Regions from separate parts of the Homo sapiens genome. Here region 1 is linked to region 2. The links come from fine-mapping of genetic effects on gene expression. Tissue or cell type: whole blood. Region 2 holds a variant in brackets; the other region holds the start of a gene. All regions are shown on one strand. Distances are from middle to middle.

Region 1 (4,236 bases), 26 kb after region 2:
CAGGCTCTTCTGTCCTTTCCTTGGCCTTTGGCTCTTGGAAGGCTGAATATTTCTCCCACCAGGACCTCAGACTATCTTTAGGGAACCCCGGCTGGTTCATTCCCACTGTAACCCCTGAGGCTCTTGGCCTCCTCCCGTCCTCCTCTTCCTCCTCCTTTTTTTCCCTCCTTCCCCTCCTCCTCAGTTTGGGCTTCCCCTGTCCAAGAAGCCTCAGGATGAGCTTTGGGAACGAGGTTTTACCTGTGTTTCCAACTCTGCTCTGAGCCCCTGAGCTCTGTAGTGGAGGGGAGGAAAGGGAGAAGGGAGGGAAAGTGGAAGCATCGAACAGTCAGGACACTGGGCTCTCATCGCAGCTCTGCCGCCAGCCAGCAGTCACCCTGGACACATCCTTGTGCCTGAGCGCTAATTTCCTCCCCTGTGAAATGGGAACAGCAGGCCCTGCCTACATCGTGGGGTGGTTTAAGGAATCAATGAGATGACAGCTGTGAATGTTCTTGGCGCAGTACAACATATGCCATGTGTTTCTCCAGTGTTTTCAAAGGCCGGTAGTGCCCGCCACCACCCAGTTCAGAACTCACCACAAAACATGAATTTCTCATCACTTCTCACCATGAGTCTTGTCTTTCCAAAGGAAGGGAGAAGGGAAAGCCAGCTGAGCACCTCTTACCTGTCTGTGCTGGATGGGGCCTTGCCACAAGGCTGTGCAGTTGGAAATAGCCTCACTTCATAGATGAGGAAACCGAGGCTCAAAGAGGTCAAATAGCCTGCCAGAACTGTGCAGCTGGAAGCCACAGGCCAAGGCTTTGCCTCTCTTTCCTCTGCTCCCCATCACTCTGCAGGGGTTATGGTGGGGGAACAAGAGAGGCTTGGAGCCCCTCATTCAGATGCACCAAAGGCACCCACTAAGAAGCTAAGTGTCTTACACATCAGTGGAAACCAGAGGGTAAACAGGATTCCATCCATGCCCAGGGCTTTCCGGGAACACACCTGTCCAAGCAGCAGCAGTTCCCAACAGAGCTCTGGTCCCGGAAAGCCGGACAGCCAGGGCTGGGCCCTCTGGGATTTGTTTAGTGATCTGACCGTGTGGGAGGCCTAGAGTAGGAGTGGGGGTGGGGGGAGCGTGCCGCCCAGCCTTATTGCATCACTCACCGCCCAGGCCCTGCCCTCACTCCCTCCTGACCAGGCCCTGTGCAGGTTCTCAGCCACCCTGCCCCGGGGGGTCCTTCAGACTGTACTCACTGACCAAGTGAGGGACTGACCCGAGGTTAGAGTGCTGTGTTGTATGTGACCTGAGAATATGTGTGCACAGACTGAGCCCCGGTGTCCTTGTGCAGTTGAGCGTGTACATGTCCTGCCCGTGTGTAGGCAACCTGTCCCTACATGCTAGGAGTGTGACTCCACGTCCTGCTAGAGGGGGAGGAGAGAAGGAGTTGTGCCCAGGGTCCCCTGATCACTTCTATGGGCTCATGTTTGTGCATCTTGTTAGGGGTGCTTGGGGGTAGGGAAGCCTGTGCCCTGGGTGCCCTTGATCACCTGTGTGTGTGCTCCATCAGGTGTGCGCGCCTGTGCATTGGGGGTGTACTGTGTCACAGCTTCCTAAAACAACCATGTGCGCATGCAGACGTTTGCGTGTGTGACCTACGGTGTGAGCGAGCGGATGCTTCCACCACGTGTCTCTGCACACGCATGTGTGCACTTGCACACCTGCGTGTGTCCCGAGAGAGCGAGCGGAGCCCAGCGTGGGCTGGCACGCGCGGGAACGTGTGGGTGCGCGTCCTGCGGGTCCCTGCCGGGTTGACTCCCAGCTTGTGCCGCGGGCGTGCATGAGCGGAAGGCGCCCGGCGGCCCTGCCTGGCCGCGAGTGTGCGCGCGCGGGGTCCCGGGCCGGCGTGCACGCCGGTGTGAGTGCGAGTGCGAGTGAGTGTGGCGCCGCGCGGCTCCCTCCGCTCCGCGCCGCCCGCGCAGCCCGCACACTCACCCTGCTTGGTTGCTGCCGGGTGACGCGGGCTGGGCCCGCCCCCTGCCTGCCGGCCTCTGGCACTCGCTCGCGCCGTCCGCAGCGGAGCGGGCAGCGGCCAAGTCAGGGCCGTCCGGGGGCGCGGCCGGCGATGCCCGCAGCCCCCGCCGCGCCCCGCCGGGCCTGCTGAGCCGCCCCCGGGCCGGGGTCGCGCCGGGCCGGGCCGCGCCCGGGGCGGGGCGGCGCTGCCTGCATGACCCTCCGGCGGCGCGGGGAGAAGGCGACCATCAGCATCCAGGAGCATATGGCCATCGACGTGTGCCCCGGCCCCATCCGTCCCATCAAGCAGATCTCCGACTACTTCCCCCGCTTCCCGCGGGGCCTGCCCCCGGACGCCGGGCCCCGAGCCGCTGCACCCCCGGACGCCCCCGCGCGCCCGGCTGTGGCCGGTGCCGGCCGCCGCAGCCCCTCCGACGGCGCCCGCGAGGACGACGAGGATGTGGACCAGCTCTTCGGAGCCTACGGCTCCAGCCCGGGCCCCAGCCCGGGTCCCAGCCCCGCGCGGCCGCCAGCCAAGCCGCCGGAGGACGAGCCGGACGCCGACGGCTACGAGTCGGACGACTGCAGTAAGTTTCCCACGCGCCGACTTCGCGCCCCCTCCCCTGGCTCGGGCTCGGCCCCCCCACGGCCTCGCGGCTTCCCTCCGCCGGTCCCCCTCGCGCGCTCGCGCTCTGCCTCGGTTCACAACCCCGCCGCGGGCTTGCGGGCCCCTGGCGCACTCGGTGCGCTCTCCGCGCCCTGCCCACCGGCCTCGAGCCCTCCCCCGACCCAGGCCGGACAGGAGGGAAGTTCGGGGGCACCCCCTGGGGGTGTCCCATTTCCGGGGCCGGGTTCCTCGGAGCCGGCGCCGCGCCCCCTCCCTGCCAGCCCGCCCTCCCGGAGCTCCGGCGCGGGCGGCTGCTTTTGTTCCCGGGAAGGGCGGAGCTGCGTCCCGGGGAGACACCAGTTGCTGCCGGCCGCGCGGTCGCTCCCCGCTCGCCAGCCGCTCCGGGAGGGCCTCGCGGCCGAGGGTCGGGGCTGGGGCGAGCTGGGGAGGGGCCCGAGGCTGGGAGCGGCCCGGCCTCCCGCGTGGTCCCGGCGGCCCGCAGAGCGCAGCTGCTTTGCTGGCGCGCGAGCAGAGGACCAGGAGGACCGCGGGGCCGCTTGTCCTTTGGAAAAACCTTGGCGTTTCCTCCTCCGGTGTCCATGGACCCCGCCGCAGCCCTCGCCAGGGCCGCGCACCTTCGCCCACCTGTTACGCCCGCGGCCCCCGGGCAGAGAGGGCCCCCCAGCCCGCTCCCCCTCCTCCCGGACTGAGCCCTGAGCCCCCGGGAGCAGGCAAGCGCCGGAGTCCCGGGACCGAGGCCCGGCCGGTGGGCGCTCCTGGCGCCTTTTCCCGTCCCCGAGGGTGCCTGTCCGGCCCGAGCCGGGACTGGCTGGGAAACCGAGGCCGGAAGAGGTCGCAGTCCAGTGAGGAGTCGGTTTGCGCGGGGTGGGGATGGCATGTGAGAACCCCCTCCTAGCTCAGCTGTGGCTCCAGACTTGTCACTGAGACCTGGAAAACCAGCGTCTCGTCAAACCCCAGCCCTTCCCGGGATGTGGCCCTTCTCCAGGGCTGGTGCTGCCCCTCCCCTGCGCAGCAGGGATGTCTGCGCCTGGCCTGGGCACTCACCAGGGCCTGTGGGCTGCGGGCCTGGAGTTTCCCAAGCATCAAATGTGCCACCAGAAGCTGAAGGTAGGGATTACCAGTGCCCCCGGGGCACAGACCCCCCATCGCCCCACCTGGGGAGGCCCATCAGCAGTGGCCGGTTAGAGCAGGGCCCCTGTAGGGGAAACTGCCTGCTTTGCACTTTCTAGAGGCCTGGACCACGGCCCTCGGGCCAGCGCCTGGCACATGAAGGCCCTGCCCTGGGGCGTGGGGGCTGGGGAGCAGTCTTGTCCCTCCACTTTCCTGCCAGCTTGGGGAGATTGGGTCGGAAGAGTTTTTTGCCCTCAGGGCTGTGCCCTAGATCCACCCCCCCTCCCCTCTGCCCCTGGCACCCTGTGCGAAGCTCACCCTGGACTTGGTGATCCCCTGGGTGGGCCCTGAGTGGGACCCAAGTAACTGCTTTGGCTGCCCTGAATCCAAAGCCTCCCCCAGAAGAACGGATGGGAAAGTTGTTCCCATTTCTGGCATCTCTGCTGCTGCACCAAGGAAGTAAGAGGGGAGGGCAGAGCTTCAGGCCACCCTCCTGGTGCCA
Region 2 (4,236 bases):
GATAATCAGAAAATATCCCAAAGCCTTCCAAAGAGAGAAAAAAAAAGTCACATACAAAGGATCAGGAATTTAAATGGCGCTGAAATTCTCAAAGCAAATTTTGAAGTCCGAGCACAGAGAAGCAAGAGCTTCTGAATTCTGAGGGCAAACAATTTCTAAGTTGACTTTTCTATCCAGCTAGAACTTCGTGCAGTGTGAAGTTAGAATGAAGATATGTTCAGACATGTGAGTTCTTGAAAAATATCACCTCCCTTGCCCTCTTTCTCGGGCAGCTACTGTAGGATGTGCTCCAACCAAACAAGGGAGAAAACCAAGAGAAAATGGGCACAAGAAACTGGAGCCCTCACACAGGAGAGAATCCTCAGGGTGATGGTGGAGCTGGGTGGCTGGTCCAGCCAGCCCAGATGAGGACAGAGGAGGTGCACAAGGATATACAAGAAGCATATGTGTCTCAGGGAGATCGTAAGTGAGAGCTACATCGTGATATTTTATAGTACATAATGCTGTATAAAATTACAAAATCAAGACATAGAATCCGCATGAGGTTTTAGATACCAAGGAACTAAAAGAGTTCTAAGGTGTCTCGAGGTGAGCAGGGGATTCCTGCTTTATGTTATAAACTTTGTAGGACAGTTACCCTTTTAAAACCTACTATATTTCATGTATAACAATGAATTTTTATGGAAAAATACACATCAAACTGCTGACAAACCCACAGGGCGGGGGGCGGCGGCAGTGAGCCCAGGGCCATAGCAGATGAGTGAGTAAACACCTGCCTGGCAGAGAAAAGACAGCCTGTGGGCTGCCCCACAGTCCCTAGGTCCACACCCGACCTGGGAACACCAGCCTGGGAGTGGCTCGGGCCTCTGCCCGCAGTTCTAAGCTGCAGGTGCGCTACCCACGCCTCTGTAGGACCAAAGCCCTCTCAGACCTGATGCAGATGAGCCCCCACACTCAGCCCCCACCAGAACCCCATGACTGGGCCAGACCCAGTCCCTGCAGCCCCAGGGTGGATTCCAAATGCATTTCCTAGAAGGCATTCATTAAGACGACGTCATCGTGGAAGTGTCAGCTTCAGAGCTGAGGTGGGCTGCAGATCCCTCACGGGAGCCTGCGGCTGCCTTGGAGTCAAGGGTTCTTTGTGGGCTGGTCTGGGAACCAAGAAATCCTTTCTTTATGAAACTGCTTTCTTAGTCCCAAGCAACCAACTTACAAGTTAGCTTTCAGAACTGAGCCTTTCCTGGTAGAAGGTGGAAGGTGTTCTGTGACATCCGTAAAAATCAGGGCATACGGAAGGGACTGGATTTGTCCCAAATACCAGATAACCCAAGTGGTTCCTAGAAGAGGCCGCAAGTGGAGAGCTCATGAACTTTGGACCCTGGTTTCAAATCCCAGATCTGCTACTTAGTGCCTGAAAGTATGGGTGCTTCTCTGTGCCTCTGTTTCTCATCTGTGAAATGGGGATAACACTTCCGTCCCAGGATGACTGGAAATTTAAAACATGAGGGCCCCAGTACAGCTCCCACCACCGTGACCAGTATGTCAACAGCTACCAGCTGTTTCTCCCGTAGAATTCAGTGAGGCACGTGCCTCAGGAGTGGTCAAGATGCCATAAGAACGTGAGAAGGGTGGCAGCCTGGTACCCGGGGCACAGTAAACCTTCATGCTTCTCCCTTTGGGGCTTTGGAATAATGGTGCTTATCCACATTCATTCCTCTGTCGAGCATTAATCGGGCAGATGCTGGTGCAGGTGCAGTGTTCTAGGCCCTGGGTTTGGTAGTGGACAAAACGGACATGGCCCCGTCCTCCTGCTGCATCTGAACCACCCAAGGGACTTGTTAGAACACAGAACACACTAATCCTACCTCGGAGTTTCTGATTCAGAGGTCTGCCGTGGGGCTGACAATGCATATTTCAGTTCCCAGGTGATGCCGAGGTTCCCATTGGAACCAGCTCACCTGTGACTCCTGGGGCTGACATCCCTAAACCCGCACCAGCTGGGGCAAAAGATACACGGACACTGGCAGACGACCGAGGGGCAGGGGATGCGGATCAGGCTGGCAGAGAAAACGCAGCCCTCACAGCCCT[G/T]CTGCCGCGTCCCGCCCCCGACAGATGCACGGCTCCGCGCTGTTGCTCAGCCCTGGCGCACAGGCCCAGCGGGTTAGAGGATTTCCACCCCAAACAGCGGGGGCCGGCATCTTTCCCACATGAGAAAACGCCTGCTTTCTGCTGGTACCTGGAGGAAAGGAGCATCTTATCGCGAGACCATGGAGCGGGGTTGGAACGACATGCCTGGCTCAGGTCCCCGCTCACTCCACTGACCTTGTTCTCTTCGCCCAATCACGTTTCCCCACCACCTTCTACCTTCCTCGAGCTGCCGTAAGAAACACTCGCCCAATCATGTTTCCCCATCGAGGTGCCATAAGAAACACTCGCCCAATCACGTTTCCTCATCGAGCTTCCGTAGGAAATATTCGTCTAATCACGTTTCCCCATGGAGCTGCCGTAAGAAACACTCACCCAATCACGTTTCCCCATCGAGGTGCTGTAAGAAACACTCGCCCAATCACGTTTCCCCATGGAGCTGCCGTAAGAAACACTCACCCAATCACGTTTCCCCATCGAGCTGCCGTAAGAAACACTCGCCCAATCATGTTTCCCCATCAAGGTGCCGTAAGAAACACTCGCCCAATCACGTTTCCCCATTGAGGTGCCATAAGAAACACTCGCCCAATCACGTTTCCCCATCGAGCTGCCATAAGAAACACTCACCCAATCACGTTTCCCCATCGAGCTGCCGTAAGAAACACTCGCCCAATCATGTTTCCCCATCGAGGTGCCGTGAGAAACACTCGCCCAATCACGTTTCCTCATCGAGCTGCCGTAGGAAACATTCGTCCAATCACGTTTCCCCATCGAGGTGCCGTAAGAAACACTCACCCAATCACGTTTCCCCATCGAGGTGCCATAAGAAACACTCGCCCAATCACGTTTCCCCATCGAGCTGCCGTAGGAAACATTCGTCCAATAACGTTTCCCCGCCACCTTCTACCTTCCTCCAGCTGCCGTAAGAAACACTCACCCAATCACGTTTCCCCATCGAGCTGCCTGCCGTAAGAAACACTCGGGTTCTGTGGTGCCTTCAGGTGTTCACTTCTTCATGGAGCTTCCGTGTGACGTAACACATGCTAAATACATGCTCAGACTTTTCTCTGGTTAATCTGCCCCCCCCTTTTTTGTATTTTTTTTTTTAACAGGGGGCCCAGCCAATGAGCCTGAGGTGGCTGTAAGGAAAAAGCTCAGTTTCCTCCCCTATGATTGGTTCCCCAGCAGGAAGGAGGCTGAGGCTGGATGGGGAACTGGCCTGCCTGCAGCCTCCACCCCAGGCCACCCTGCCCTGCACTCCGCCCATGGGGGAGAGAAGCCTCCTACATAAGGTGACCAGCTGGAGGGTCCAGCTGTTGGAGGTACTAGGCAGAAGGGGCCCTCGCCAGGGGAGATGGACGGCACACAGACGCACACACACGTGTGCATACACTAGTATGTACAAACACAGAAAGGTTCACCTGTTTACAGAATACGTAGGAGGCCAGGTGCAATGGCTCATGCCTGTAATCCCAGGACTTTGGGAGGCCAAGGCAGGAGTATCACCTGAGCCCAGGAGTTCGAGACCAGCCTGGGCAATATGGAGAGATGCCATCTCCACAAAAATTAAAAAAAAAAAAAAATAGCCAGACGTGGTGGTGCATGCCTGTAGTACCAGCTACACAGGAGGCTGAGAAGGGAGGATCACTTGAGCCCAAGAGTTTGAGGCTGCACTGAGCTGTGACTGTGCCACTGCACTCCAGCCTGATTGACAGAGCAAGACCCTGTCTCAAATATATGTGGAGGACCAGTGCCTTTAAATTGCTCATCCAAGTGCCAGCAAATGCTCTTCTGCACAGGGGAGGGATGAGACCAAAGGAAAACCTGGCACTGGCATTGCCCGGAGTATGTGAGGAGAAGGACCTCGCCAGGCCATGTGTGAAGAGCATTGGCAGAGCCCCTGCCATGGCTAAGTCCTGGTGTCCCCTGCAAAGCAGGGCCTTGATGCTCCAGTTTCCTGTCCCTTTCCTTTCCTCTGCAAACGGTCAGGGCTCTGACCCGCAGCGCCCGGCCCCACCCCGGGGCTGTCTTGTGCAGAAAGCAAAGCAGAGTGTGCCTCTCCTCACCCCACAGTACCGAGGAGAGCAGGCA

What was found. PIP is the estimated chance that this variant, and not a neighbour inherited with it, causes the effect.
Region 1: DOC2B starts here. The variant in region 2 is the best candidate, but not a certain one, in a credible set for the expression of DOC2B in whole blood (TOPMed, PIP 0.87).

What each region holds. Positions count from the first base shown.
Region 1 is chr17:179,454-183,689 of GRCh38, reverse strand. It overlaps DOC2B (double C2 domain beta), which reads left to right and starts at 2,040. Exons shown (of 9, transcript NM_003585.5): 1 at 2,040-2,583. The coding sequence starts at 2,211. RefSeq lists enhancers at 1,155-1,656, 3,118-3,684.
Region 2 is chr17:205,220-209,455 of GRCh38, reverse strand. No RefSeq gene overlaps it. Among named protein-coding and RNA genes, the nearest start is that of LINC02091, 20 kb to the right of the region's middle. The variant G/T (reference allele first, on the strand shown) is at 2,089.